Linked DNA regions of Homo sapiens. The protein of the gene in region 1 purifies or fractionates together with the protein of each later gene. This does not show direct contact. Each region holds a gene or a part of one and is shown on either strand. Other genes may lie near its edges.

Region 1 (7,036 bases):
ATCAGCCTCCCGAATAGCTGGGATTACAGGCGTCCGCCACCGCACTTGGCTAATTTTTTGTATTTTTAGTAGAGATGGGGTTTCTTCATGTTGGCCAGGCTGGTTTCAAACTCCTGACCTCAAGTGATCCGCCCACCTCGGCCTCTAAAAGTGCTGGAATTACAGGCGTGACCCACCGCGCCCGGTGAGTTCTTTTCATTTTAGTGTTTAAAAACACTTCCCTCTAGTTCCTTGTATGTTGTTGGAGGGCCTTAACACCACTCTCAACTTTGGCCATGTGTTAAAATCACCTAGGATTTTGTTTGGCTTTACTTTCATGACCAGGCCTGACTCGACCTAAGATTTGACCTTGAGAGTTACCCCAACAGTTACTGTGTGAGCGGAGGGGACGGGCCATCAGTTGGGGTGACAGGGAAAGGGCTGCACAGTGCTTGTCATGACCGCATCCCTTGCTTCTTCCCAATTTGTTCCTGGCTGTAGTGAAAGTCACAGAGTCCACAGGATGCAGGACTTCGATGGCCAGGTGGTCCAGGTAAGAGAGATGGGCCGAGAGCTGCTTGTTGTGTTCCTGGGGTGCTTTTGAAAAGTTGAGATTTGGGTAGGGTGATGGCAAATTTGTTAGGGGGATTTTCTGAATTAAATTATTTTAGTAAAAATTGTAGCCTACTTACTATAGGCCAGGATTTATGCTAGATTCTAGGGATACAAAGTTTAATAAGATTTTGGGGCCGGGTGTGGTGGCTATACCTGTAATGCCAGCACTTTGGGAGGCCGAGACAGGTGGATCACCTGAAGTCAGGAGTTCCAGACCACCCTGGCCAACATGGTGAAACCCCGTCTTTACTAAAAATACAAAAATTAGCCGGGTGTGGTGGCACATGCCTGTAATCCCAGCTACTCAGGAGGCTGAGGCACAGGAATTGCTTGAACCTGGGAGGTGGAGGCTGCAATGAGCTGAGAGATTGCACCACTGCACTCCAGCCTGGATGACAGAGCAAGACTCTGTCTCAAAAAAAAACAGATTTTTGGGGATGACACTCTAGTGAGTGAACAAGTTAAAAAGCTAACTGAGGCCGGATGTGGTGGCTCACACCTGTAACGTCAGCCTCTGGGGAGGCTGAGGCAAAAGTATCACAGCACTTGCTGTATTCATGCATATGTGCATTGAAATATTTATGATAGGTACCTACCATGAGCCAGGCACTATTCTGGGGATGAGAATAAAATGGAGAGCAAAATACAGCTGGCTTAGAACACCACAGCACTAATCATACTGTGATACGGCTGGCTTTTTGGTTTTATTTGGAAATTTTTTAGAGGCAGGGTCTCATTCTGTTGCCTAGGCTGGAATGCAGTGGCACGATCATAGCTCACTGCAGCCTTGAACTCTTGGGCTCAAGTGATCTTGCCTCAGCCCCCTGTGTAGCTGGGTCTACAGGTGTGCATCACCATCCTCGGCTAATTATTTTAAAGAGACAGATTCTCACTGTGCTGGCCAGGCTGGTCTCAAACTCTTGGCCTCAAGCCATCCTCCCGCCTTGGCTGCCCAAACTGTTGGGATTATGGGTTAAGCCACCATGTCAGGCCTCCTTCACCTATTAGACTGAGTGACTTTGTGCAAGTTACCAGACATCTCCAAGATAGTTTCTTTTTCTTTTTTTTTATTTTAGTGCAGTGGCACAATCTCAGCTCAGAGCAACCTCTGCCTCCTGGGTTCAAGCGATTCTCGTGCCTCAGACTCCCGAGTTGCTGGGATTACAGGCATGTGCCACCATACCTGGCTAATTTTTGTATTTTTAGTAGAGATGGGGTTTCACCATGTTGGCCAGGCTGGTCTTGAACTCCTGACCTCAAGTGATCCACCTGCCTTGGCCTCTCAACGTGTTGGGATTACAGGAGTGAGTCACTGTGCCCAGCTGAGATTCAGTTTCTTACTAGGTGGTTTTGGTTATTGACTTAACACAATGCCTGGTGTAAAAATTGTTCAATAGATGGTGCTTTTCTTTAGGCAGTTAGAAAAATGAGTTTGGAACTGAGGAGAGTTGTTGAGACCAGAGATCACAGTGCAGAGGCCACAGTTAAGCATTGAGAATGGCTCCCATCTCCCAGGGTAGCATGAGGAGTGAGGAGAGAGGAGGGCAGGAGACACACCCTGGAGAGAGATCCCAACAGCAAAGGGTCTGAAGTAGAGGCTGAGTGTGTGAGCAAGGCTGGAAGCTGTGAAAGTAGAAGAGAGGGCTGGGAGGAGAAGGGTTATGGAGAAGGGGTGGTTCTTTGGAGATGGCGTGGGATGGATGGCAGAGCTCTTGGATTTGCCCCTTTGGAGATCTGCATTTTACTTTAACAAGAGCAGTTTCAATGCAGTGGGAGACTGGTAGATTGAGAAGGAGTAAGATGAGCATGGAGCAGTCTGCCTGGACCATGCTCCAGGTGCCCAGGAGCGGCAGGCGATGGTGCTGGTCCTTCTTTGGATGAGGACACCAGGGTTCTAAGTATTTCCTCTCATCCCCCTTACCTCTGTTTGTCTGCTAGGTCGCCTGTGGTCAGGATCATAGTCTGTTCCTGACGGATAAAGGAGAAGTCTATTCTTGTGGATGGGGTGCTGATGGGCAAACAGGTAGAGTTCTTTTCATGCACTGGGGTCGTGAAACTTCTCAGCCCGTGTCATGTGGAGCTGTGAGCTGTAGGGCATTTATGGGCTAGAACCCTTCTTCCTTAATTCAGCTCTTACCTCTTATCACTTTCTGAGGAACACTATTCTTGGCTCCATCGCCCAAGCTGGAGTGCAGTGGCGCGATCACATCTCACTGCAGTCTCAAACTCCCAGGCTCAGGTGATCCTCCCACCACAGTCTCCAGAGTAGCTGGGACAACAGGTGTGAGCCACCAAGCCCAGCTAATTTTTTGTAACAACAGGGTTTCGCCATGTTGCCCAGGCTGGTCTTGAACTCCTGACCTTAAGCAGTCTGCCTGCTGTGGCCTCTTGGTGGGCTGGGATTCCAGGCAGGAGCCACTGTGCCCTGCTGTAATACTTTTTTTTTGCATCCCTTCCATTCCCCTCAGCCCTGGCTCCCATAGAAATGAACTGAGAGAAGGCTGGGTGCAGTGGCTCACACCTGTAATCCCAGCACTTTGGGAGGCCGAGGTGGGCGGATCACTTGAGGTCAGGAGTTTGAGACCAGCTTGGCCACCATGGCGAAACCCCATCTCTACTAAAAATACAAAAATTAGCTGGGTGTGGTGGCACACGGCTGTAATCCCAGCTACTAGGAAGGCTGAGGCAGGAGAATGGCTTGAACCCGGGAGGCGGAGGTTGCTGTGAGCCAAGATCGCGCCATTGCACTCCAGCCTGGACAACAGAGCAAGACTCTGTCTCAAAAACAAACAAACACAAACTGCAGAGAAAAGGACAGGCAGGACCTGCCCAAAGGCAAATGTCATTATTGGCACTTGGTATGGGGGTAACCCCTGGCCAGCAGCCCAAGGCAGAGCACTGAACTGTAGACTCTTGCCTTCATCCAGGGTCCTTAAAGGGGCCTATTCCTCAGCAGGTGAATGGATCAACCGTGGTGCATCCAGACAATGTAAAGTTTGTTATTTAGCACTAAAAAGCAATAAGCTGCCAACCCATGGAAAGGCATGGAGGAAACTTAAATGCATGATACTGATTAAAAGAAGCCTATCTGAAAAGGCTACATACTATAGGATTCTAGCTATATGGCATTCTGAAAAAGACAAACTATGGAGACAGTAAAAAGATCGGGGCCGGGCGCGGTGGCTCATGCCTGTAATCCCAGCACTTTGGGAGGCCTAGGCAGGTGGATCACGAGGTCAAGAGATCGAGACCATCCTGGCTGACACGGTAAAACCCATCTCTACTAAAAAATACAAAAAAAATTGGCTGGGCATGGTGGCGGGCGCCTGTAGTCCCAGCTACTCAGGAGGCTGAGGCGGGAGAATGGCATGAACCCACTGTGCCCAGCCTCTCTGCTTATTGTTAACCATGCCATTTTAAGTTCCCTGTTTTTTGGGAGTGGTGTTGGGGATGGCATGGGCTCTTAGAGATTTTCTTTACTTTTAGCAAGACCACCAGTGCATTAGAAATTGCTTGTTGTGATCAGGCAGGTGGCTCACACCTGTAATCTAAGCACTTTGGGAGGCTGAGGCAGGAGGATTGCTTGAGCCCAGGAGTTCGATACCAGCCTGGGCAACATAGTGAGATGCTGTCTCTATTTCAATATAAAAAAATTTTAGACCAGGCGCAGTGGCTCACGCCTATAATCCCAGCACTTTGGGAAGCTGAGGCAGGCGGATCACCTGAGGTCAGGGGTTTTGAGGCCAGCCTTGCCAACATGACGAAACCGCATCTCTGTGAAAAATACAAAAATTAGCCGGCTGTGGTGGTGCGTGCCTGTAATCTCAGCTACTTGGGAGGCTGAGGCACAAGAATTAAAGAACTGCTTGAACCCAGGAGCTGGAGATTGCAGTGAGCCGAGATCGCACCACTGCGCTGCAGCCAGAGGAACAGAGTGAGACCGTCTCAAAAAAAAAAAAAAAGTTGTATGAGCATGCAACTAAGCAGATTAGGGTTTCTTTTCTTTCTTTCTTTTCTTTTTTTTTCTTTTTTTTTTTTTTTTGAGAGTCTCATTCTTGCCAAGGCTGGAGTGCAGTGGTGTGATCTTGGCTTAACTGGAACCTCCACCTCCTAGGTTCAAGTGATTCTTGTGCCTCAGCCTTCTGAGTAGCTGAGATTACAGGCATGTACCATTATGCCCTAATAATTTTTTTGTAATTTTTTTTTTTTTTTTTAAGTAGAGACAGGGTTTCGCCATGTTGACCAGGCTGATCTCGAACTCCTGACCTCAAGTGATCTGCCCATCTCAGCCTCTGAAAGTGGTGGGATTACAGGCGTGAGCCACTGCACCCAGCCCCAGACTGGGATTTCTGAGCTGATACTTGTTAAGTGCTTAAAACTGCACTTGGCATATAGTAAGTCTGCCTATGTGTTTGTTAAAAGAGCGAATAATTAAAAATCTGTATTTTCCACTGTGTTAGGTCTGGGTCACTACAATATCACCAGCTCGCCCACCAAGCTGGGTGGAGACCTGGCGGGAGTGAACGTTATCCAAGTTGCCACCTACGGTGATTGCTGCCTGGCCGTGTCCGCCGACGGAGGACTTTTTGGTTGGGGAAACTCGGAGTACCTGCAGCTGGCCTCTGTCACTGACTCCACACAGGTATGCAGTCGCCGACAGCGTGGTGCTGGGAGGTTTGGAAACATTAAAGTGTTAAGGGGCCGGGTGTGGTGGCTCACACCTGTAATCCCAGCACTTTGGAAGGCCGAGACAGGCAGATGGCTTGAGGTCAGGAGTTCAGGACCAGCCTGGGCAACATGGCAAAACCCCATCTCTACCAAAAAAATACAAAAATTAGCCAGGTGTGGTGGTGCATGCCTGTAATCCCAGGTACTGGGGAGGCTGAGGCATGAGAATTGAATCGCTTGCAGATTGCAGTGAGCTGAGATCGTGCCACCACATTCCAGCCTGGGTGACAGAGCAAGACTCTGTCTCGAAAAAAAAGAGCAAATAGGCTGGGCGTGGTGGCTCACGCCTGTAATCCCAGCGCTTTGGGAGGCCAAGGCAGGCAGATCACCTGAGGTCAGGAGTTCGAGACCAGCCTGGCCAACCTGGTGAAACCCCGTCTCTACTAAAAAAAAATACAAAAATACCACCTCCACCTCCTGGGTACAAGCAATTCTCCTGGCTCAGCCCCCCGAGTAGCTGGGACTACAGGCACTTGCCACCACGCCCAGCTAACTTTTGTATTTTTAATAGAGACAGGGTTTCACCATGTTGGCCAGGCTGGTCTCGAACTCCTGACCTCAAGTGATCCACCTGCCTCCGCCTCCCAGAGTGCTAGGATTACAGGCGTGAGCCACCACACCCGGCCACAAATGTCATTTTATGTTAATTTTGGTTGACATCTGCCTCGTCCACTAGACTAGAACTCTCTGAGGGTGGAAACTGGGCCTCTTTTGCTTCCCATTCTACCCCAGCACCTAGTATGATGCTTGGCATGTGATGTTCAGGAAGTATCTGTGGAGTGAATGAATGAACTAGGACTCAGCTACTCTGTACCTAAGACCAGAACACTTCCCGGTCCTTACTGGCTTGCTTTCCTAACAGTGTGGCTCCTTTCTTTGGTTCAGGTGAATGTGCCCCGCTGCTTACACTTCTCAGGAGTGGGGAAGGTGCGACAGGCTGCATGCGGTGGCACGGGCTGTGCAGTGTTAAACGGTGAGACCTTCTTTCCGGTGGCTCATTGGGAAGCTGTAGGTAGATTACATAGGGAGTGGTCAGTGTCCATTGGATTTGCAGGCCGTAGACCTTAGCCTTAGGAGGGTAACATGGCTGGGCGCGGTGGCTCACATCTGTAATCCCAGCACTTTGGGGAACTGATGCAGGAGGATTGCTTGAGGCCAGGAGTTCCAGACCAGCCTGGACAACATAACGAGACCCTGTCTCTACCAAAAAATGGAGAAATTAGCTGGAAGGCTGGGTGTGGTGGCTCACACCTGTAATCTCAGCACTTTGGGAGGCCAAGGCAGGCAGATCACCTGAGGTCAGGAGTTCAAGACCAGCCTGGCCAACGTGGTGAAACCCTGACTCTACTAAAAATAGAAAAATTAGCCAGACATGGTGGTACATGCTTGTAATCCTAGTACTTGGAAGGCTAAGGTGGGAGGATTGCTTGGACCCAGGAGGCAGAGGTTGTAGTGAGCCGAGATTGCGCCACTGCACTCCAGCCTGGATGACTCTGTCTCAATAGAAAAAGAAAAAATGAAAAATTAGCTGGGCATGGTGGTGCACACCTGTAGTCCCAGCTACTCAGAAGGCTGAGGCAGAAAGGTCCCTTGAGCCCAGGAGTTCGAGCTGCAGTGAGCTATGATCATGCCACTGCACTGGGCAACACGGTGAGACCCTGTTTCAAAAAAGGAAGGGACTATGGCCATGGGAAGATGGCATTGGATTAGAAGA
Region 2 (7,036 bases), on another chromosome or scaffold:
GCTGGAGGGCAGTGGTGAGATCTCGGCTCACTGAAACCTCTGCCTCCTGAGTTCAAGCAGTCTTCTCACCTAAGCCTCCCGAGTAGCTGGGACTACAGGCACAGGCCACTATGCCTGGCTAATTTTTTTTTTTTTTTTGAGACGGAGTCATGCTCTGTTGCCCAGGCTGGAGTGCAGTGGCACGATCTCGGCTCACTGCAAGCTTCTCCTCCTGGGTTCACGCCATTCTCCTGCCTCAGCCTCCCGAGTAGCTGGGACTACAGGCGCCCGCCACCACGCCCAGCTAATTTTTTGTATTTTTAGTAGAGACGGGGTTTCACCATGTTAGGCAGGATAGTCTCGATCTCCTGACCTCGTGATCCACCCGCCTCGGCCTCCCAAAGTGCTGGGATTACAGGTGTGAGCCACCACGCCCGGCCATGCCTGGCTAATTTTTGTATTTTTTGTAGAGATGGGGTTTTGTCACGTTGCCCATGCTAGTATTGAACTCCTGGGCTCAAGTGATCTGCCTGCCTCGGCGTCTCAAAGTGCTGGGATTATAAGCGTGAGCCCTTGCAACTGGTCTCTTGATTTATTTTGAACCACTGAAAAATGCAAAAACCATTCTTAACTCATAGGCCACAAAAAACAAGCCAGATGCGGTGGCTCATTCATGTAATCCCAGCACTTTGGGAGGCCGAGGCAGGCGGATCACTTGAGGTCAAGAGTTCAAGACCAGCCTGGCCAACATGATGAAACTCCGTCTCTACTAAAAATACAAAAAATTAGCTAGGTATGGAGGCAGGTGCCTGTAATCCTAGCTACTCAGGAGGCTGAGGCATGAGAATCGCTTGAATCTGGGAGGTGGAGGTTGCAGTGAGTTGAGATGGCGCCACTGCACTCCAGCCTGGGTGACAAAGTGAGACTCCATCTCAAAACAAAACAAAACAAAACAAGCAAACACACACACACAAAAAAAAAACAGTCTTCAGTCTTCAGGTTTGACTTGTGGACTGTAGTTTGCTGACCCTTTTTCTATTCTGGGACTCCAGGTGAGAAATGAGACCCTAGGTAGAAGTCCTAAGGTAGGGGTTTTGGGTTTCTGGGAAAGAATAAGTTTATTTATTTATTTATTTGACAGAGTCTTGCTCTGTTGCCCAGGCTGGAGTCTGGAGTGCAGTGGTGTGATCTCAGCTCACTGCAACCTCCATCTCCCAGGTTCAAGCTATTCTCTTGCCTCAGCCTCCCAAGTAGCTGGGATTACAGGTGTGTGCCACCACACCCAGCTAATTTTTGTATTTTTAGTAGAGATGGGGTTTCACCATGTTGGCCAGGCTGGTCTCGAACTCCTGACCTCAGGTGATCCGCCCACCTTGGCCTCCCAAAGTGCTGGGATTACAGGTGTGAGCCACTGCGCCCAGCCGAAAGAGTGATTTTTTTACTGAATAAAGTTGCCCAACAATGGAACTGGTTCTGGTAATGTGTCCCCATCACTAGATGTGATTAAGGCATGTGTCAGGGAATCTAGAGGTTTGACCAGAAACCTCAAAAACCCGTTGGACTTGTGATATTCAATGACTCTATTATATGGTAACAATAAGAAGTATAATGTATTGAGTCGCCACTCTGTACTAGGCATTGTGTTAAGCTTCCCCCAAGTACAATCCTCATTGATATCACCACAGTGCTGTGAGATGGGTCCTATTTTCATTTCACAAGGGAGAAAACTGAGGCTCAGTGTTGACATTTAGTAACATGGCCTGGATTCAATAGGCCCTTAACTACCCTGGACTCTTCCCCTAGATTCCTCTTAATCTGTAGAAGTGTAAACACTTCTGGCTCATTCCTGCATTTATTCTTTCAGTAGTTCTTTCCTGAGCAGCTAGTGAGTTGACACACCCAGGTTCTGCCTTAAGGAGCTCACAGCCTCCATTTTCCTCCAGGGACTCTTCCTCAGTAGAGCTGGGCAGGGAACCCCGCACTCTTGACCTTCAGTGTTACGCCAGTCTTCTTAGAGCCTCTCACTGGGAGACTGATGATAGGCAGAGTAAGAGGCATCTTGGGCTGCCCTTTGGATCCCAGGGCACTGAGGATACAGTTCAGGGTCCCAGATTCCATGACGGGGAAGCCTGAGAGTCTGGCCTGATGCTAGTTTGGGCTCCATGAGGCCCATTCTGAGAACGAGGTCAACATGCAGCCCAAAGCCATCCTGGGGTGGCATTTAGTTGAGAAAATGGACCTTGTTTGTTTCTTTCCAGTATGTGGACCAGCATTCGCCCATCTCAAGGTTGGCGTGGGACATCGGTTGGATGCCCAGGCTTCTGGAGTACTTGGTAGGTGATGTGAGAAGCCTGGGGGTACAGTGATAAGGCTTGAGAAAAGATCCTGAAGCTACCAGGAGCCCAGCCCACTTCTTACCTGGCACCCACGTCCCACCACTCCTCTCCTGCCCTGATTCCTGCCCCAAGGCTGATCAGCTGGGGAGTGGATAGGTGGGACGGAGGTAATCACAGGTTAATACCACAGTCACCCACCTTTATTCAGTGATTCCCACACATGACATAGTTCGAGGCCCTTTATGCACATTTATTTACCACAACAACTTTATTAGGTAGATACTATATGATTTTATGGAAGAAGAAAGTAGGATTTAGGTGACTTGTTCTGGGTCCCATGGCCAGTGAATACCCCTGGTCCGGAGAAGGAAAACCATCATTGCATCATGGGGCAGCCAGGCGCGTGACTCTGGACCTAATGGCCAGGGCCTGCATGTGGCTGGGTCTGGACACACAAAGCCCTAGTCATGAGCCATCTGTGTCCCCAGGGTCAGGTGGTGCCCACATCCTCCAGCCGCGACAGTCACAGTCCCCTTGTCTTGCTTCCTGAGGCACAGGCAGGCAGACATGATCTCATGCCCCCTCTCCCTGTTCTGTCTCCCCACGAGTGAATGCAGAGTTATTCTGTCCCTCAGCCAGAGGGAGAAACAGACCGGGAGAAAGGCAGGAAGTGACCACAGTGGCCACCGTTTATTGGGCCCTTCCTCTGTGCCGACTGCACAGCACCCACAGGAATCAGTATTTTTTTTTTTTCCTGAGACAGAGTCTTGCTCTGTCTCCCAGGCTGGAGTGCAATGGCATGATCTCGGCTCACTGGAACCTCCGCCTCCTGGGTTCAAGCAATTCTCCCTGCCTTAGCCTCCCGAGTAGGTGGGATTACAGGTGCCCGCCACCACGCCTGGCTAATTTTTTTTTTTTTTTTTTGTGAGACGGAGTCTCACTCTTGTTGCCCAAGCTGGAGTGTAGTGTAGCACCACACCTGGTTAATTTTGTATTTTTTGGTAGAGATGGGGTTTCACCATGTTGGCCAAGCTGGTCTCAAACTCCTGACCTCAGGTGATCCACCTGCCTCGGCCTCCCAAAGTTCTGGGATTACAGGCATGAGCCACTGCGCCTGGCCTTCAGACAGTATTTTTACCCCCATTTTACTGATGGGGAACTTGACGCTCAAAGAGGCTAAAGATTATACTCAGAGCTGTCCCTGATTTGAGTGCAGGTTTGTGTGACTAGGCCAGGGATCTCTTCCTCTCAGGTGTCAGAATCCTGTGGAGAGCTTGGCAGGGATCCTAGGCCCCCTCCAACCATGAGTCAGATTCAGTGCATATGGGTAAGGCCCAGCAATCTGCATGTGATATATACCCAGAGGGGTGCACCTGCCCCCTGTAGAAGATCTTTTTGCCTTCTTGTTGCCTTTGGCAGCATCAGAAAAGGGAGTATTCTGATGGTGGGGGTAGGGGTGGGGATACTTAGGGGAATGGGAAGGGGGTCCCAGGTGTGAGATGACGCTGGCTGCTTTTCAGTGCTCGGCGTGGGACATGGATGCAGGCTCCTCACCGATATGTACAATGCTCATCTTACCAAGGTACGAGGGTCTGGGGACAGCCTGCTTCTCCCTTGGTCCTTTCCTGGGGGTCACCAGCAGGATTCTGAAGCTTAGAGGATTCCGTGGGGGAACACCCAAGCCATAAGCAAGCATTTTTTTGATGATCGTGTGCTGTGCAGGGGCTGTAATAATAATAACAATAATAACTACCAGTGTTAGTGTATGCCGACTACTCTGTGCTGAGCACTGTACGTGGATTCCTTTAGGGAAGCCTCACAGCCTCCCTGTAAAGTGGAATCTGTTGTTAGCCACATTTCACAGATGAGAGAACTGAGGCTCAGAGAGGAGATGTTACTTACCTAGGTCATGTAGTTGTTAGGGCTTTAAGAGCTGGGATTTGAACCTAGGTCTCTCCAACACCAGAGCTTGATCATGATGCCATTCCCTATTCTGTCCCAAGACTGAGAGGTAGATGTCAGCATCCTACCCACAGGGAGCTTACCATCCAGAGGTGGGGTCGGGGCTATGGAGTCTGATACCACAAAGTATGTACGCAGGTGCCACGTTATGGGGCCCATGTTTTTAGTGGTTAAGGGCACAAATTCTGGAGCCAAATGGCTTCAGTTTGAACCCCAGCTTCTACCACTCTGACAGCTGTGTGTCCTTGGGTAGATTACCTAATTAATATCTGTGTGCCTCAGTTTCCTCATCTGTAAAATGGGAATGAGGGCCAGGTGTGGTGACTCATACCTGTAATCCCAGTACTTTGGGAGGCTGAGGCAGGAGGATTGCTTGAGCCCAGGAATTTGAGACCAGTCTGGGCAACATAGCAAGACTCCATCTCTATTTACAAAATTTTTTTAAATTATAAAAATTTTAAAAATTGTGGCCGGGCTCAGTGGCTCCTGCCACTTTGGGAGGCTGAGGTGGGTGGGTCACTTGAGGCCAGGAGTTCAAGACCAGCCTGGACAACATGGTGAAAACCTGTCTCTACTAAAAATACAAAAAAATTAGCCAGGCTGGTGGCGCATGCCTGTCCTCCCAGCTACTCGACGATCCACCCGCCTCTGTCTCCCAAAGTGCTGGGATTATACGTGTGAGTCACTGTATCCAGCCAATCATTACTTATCTGTGGCAGATGGGGTTAGCTGCACAGATTCAGAGGAGGGGGAGTTTTTACAAGCAGGGATGAGCAAGGGCCTGATCTGGGCCATGGAATCTCATTCTATTTAGAGGCGTGGAGAGAAGCCTACAGGGCATGCTAGAAGGGGCTCGGGGTGATAAATTGCCGAGTTAGGTTGGAGAGGAGAAACATGGAGGCCTGGGGTGGCCACAGGGTGGCTGTCAGCGGTCAGTACCTTTGGAGGCTGCCAGTGCTGGTTGTCATGGAAACCAGCCAGCAGTCTTGTAGGAAGCCTGCTGACTGGGAGCCAGGTACCATGTCCTGCTGAATCCAGGCAGCAGTACTGTGAGACTGGCCCTGTTACTGTCCCCAGGTGACAGGAGAGCTTGAATACAAAGAGAGCAAGAGCTGCTGAAGGCCACATGACAGAGCTGGTGCCCTTCCTCCTGGGGCTGTGGAGCAGCTGGGCAGGGGCTGGGCACATGAGCTTCCTGAGGGAGACCTGAGGACCCCCCACCCCCAGCTTCTGGGGCAGGGGCTACTAGGGCTTAGAATGGGGTCACTGACGGATCTTTACCTCCCTGTCCTTGAAGGATTACACAGTGCGTGGCCTCCTGGGCAAAGCTACAGATGACTTCCGTGAGGACGGGAGGCTGGTAGAGAAGACAACCTATGGTGAGAACCGGAAGTGGCTGCCGCTGCCTCCCTCCGCATTTGCTTTCCCTGAGTCCTCTCCCCGCCCTAGGCCACGCTGGCCCCTTCTCAGTTCCACTGCACACACTAGGCTTGGGCTGAGGCTTTGGCCACGGGATCTGTGCTCCAGGAGCATCCTCTACTCCCCTGCTTGCCTAGCTCAAATGTAACGTCACTTCCAAAGACTCTAGTTTCTCTCCATCTCGTCAGTCTTTGACCTTTTCCTTTTCTTTTCTTTTTTTTTTTTTTTTTTTGAGACGGAGTCTCGCTCTGTCGCCCAGGCTGGAGTGCAGTGGCACGATCTCAGCTCGCTGCAAGCACCACCTCCCGGGTTCACGCCATTCTCCTGCCTCAGCCTCCCTAGTAGCTGGGACTACAGGCGCCCGCCACCACGCCCGGCTTTTTTTTTTTTGTATTTTTAGTAGAGATGGGAGACGGGGTTTCACCATGTTAGCCAAGATGGTCTGGATCTCCTGACCTCATGATCCGCCCTCCTTGGCCTCCCAAAGTGCTGGGATTACAGGCATGAGCCACCGCGCCCAGCCTTTCCTTTTCTTTTCTTTTTTTTTTTTTGAAACGATGTCTCGCTCTGTCGCCCAGGCTGGAGTGCAGTGGCGCGATCTTGGCTTACTGCAACCTCCACCTCCCAGGTTCAAGCAATTCTCCTGCCTCAGCCTTCGGAGTAGCTGAGATTACAGGTGCACACCACCACACCCAGCTAATGTTTTGTATTTTTAGTAGAAATTGGGTTTCACCCTGTTGGCCAGTCTGGTCTGGAACTCCTGACCTCAGGTATTCTGCCCACCTCGGCCTCCCAAAGTGCTGGGATTACAGGTGTGAGTCACCACGCCTGGCTACTGTTCTAAATTTTAAAAAGAGGCCGGGCGCAGTGGCTCACGCCTGTAATCCCAGCACTTTGGGAGGTCGAGATGGGTGGATCACAAGGTCAGGAGTTTGAGACCAGCCTGGCTGATATGGTAAAACCCGTCTCTAGTAAAAATACAAAAATTAGCCGGGCGTGGTGGCAGGCACCTGTAGTCCCAGCTACTCAGGAGGCTGAGGCAGGAGAATCGCTTGAACCTGGGAGGCGGAGGTTGCAGTGAGCTGAGATTGCACCACTGCACTCCAGCCTGGCAACAAAGCGAGACTCCGTCTCAAAAAAAAAAAAAAAAAATAATAATAATACAAAAAATTAGCCGGGCATGGTAGTGCACGCCTATAATCCCAGGTACTCGGGAGGCTGAGGCAGGAGAATCGTTTGAACCTAGGAGGTGAAGTTTGCAGTTTGCTGAGATCTCACCACTGCACTCCAGCCTGGGCAACAGAGCGAGATTCCATCTCAAAAAAAAAAAGGCCAGGTTC

What was found. Proteins that work in one complex are often made in the same cells at the same time.
Region 2: the proteins of RCC1L (region 1) and TRUB2 purify together in Homo sapiens (affinity purification with mass spectrometry; 3 studies listed by BioGRID and IntAct, with this or other methods). This does not show direct contact.

The regions. Positions count from the first base shown.
Region 1 is NC_000007.14:75,056,788-75,063,823, reverse strand, and holds part of RCC1L (RCC1-like G exchanging factor-like protein), read left to right. Parts: intron 1-480; coding exon 481-532; intron 533-2,532; coding exon 2,533-2,617; intron 2,618-5,054; coding exon 5,055-5,236; intron 5,237-6,207; coding exon 6,208-6,295; intron 6,296-7,036. UniProt on the Homo sapiens protein: Guanine nucleotide exchange factor (GEF) for mitochondrial dynamin-related GTPase OPA1. Activates OPA1, by exchanging bound GDP for free GTP, and drives OPA1 and MFN1-dependent mitochondrial fusion. Plays an essential role in mitochondrial ribosome biogenesis.
Region 2 is NC_000009.12:128,312,428-128,319,463, reverse strand, and holds part of TRUB2 (pseudouridylate synthase TRUB2, mitochondrial), read left to right. Parts: intron 1-2,237; coding exon 2,238-2,312; intron 2,313-2,564; exon of another isoform or gene 2,565-3,638; coding exon of another isoform or gene 3,639-3,642; exon of another isoform or gene 3,643-3,835; coding exon 3,836-3,897; exon of another isoform or gene 3,898-4,040; intron 4,041-5,216; exon of another isoform or gene 5,217-5,366; intron 5,367-5,558; exon of another isoform or gene 5,559-5,574; coding exon 5,575-5,656; exon of another isoform or gene 5,657-5,913; intron 5,914-7,036. UniProt on the Homo sapiens protein: Minor enzyme contributing to the isomerization of uridine to pseudouridine (pseudouridylation) of specific mitochondrial mRNAs (mt-mRNAs) such as COXI and COXIII mt-mRNAs.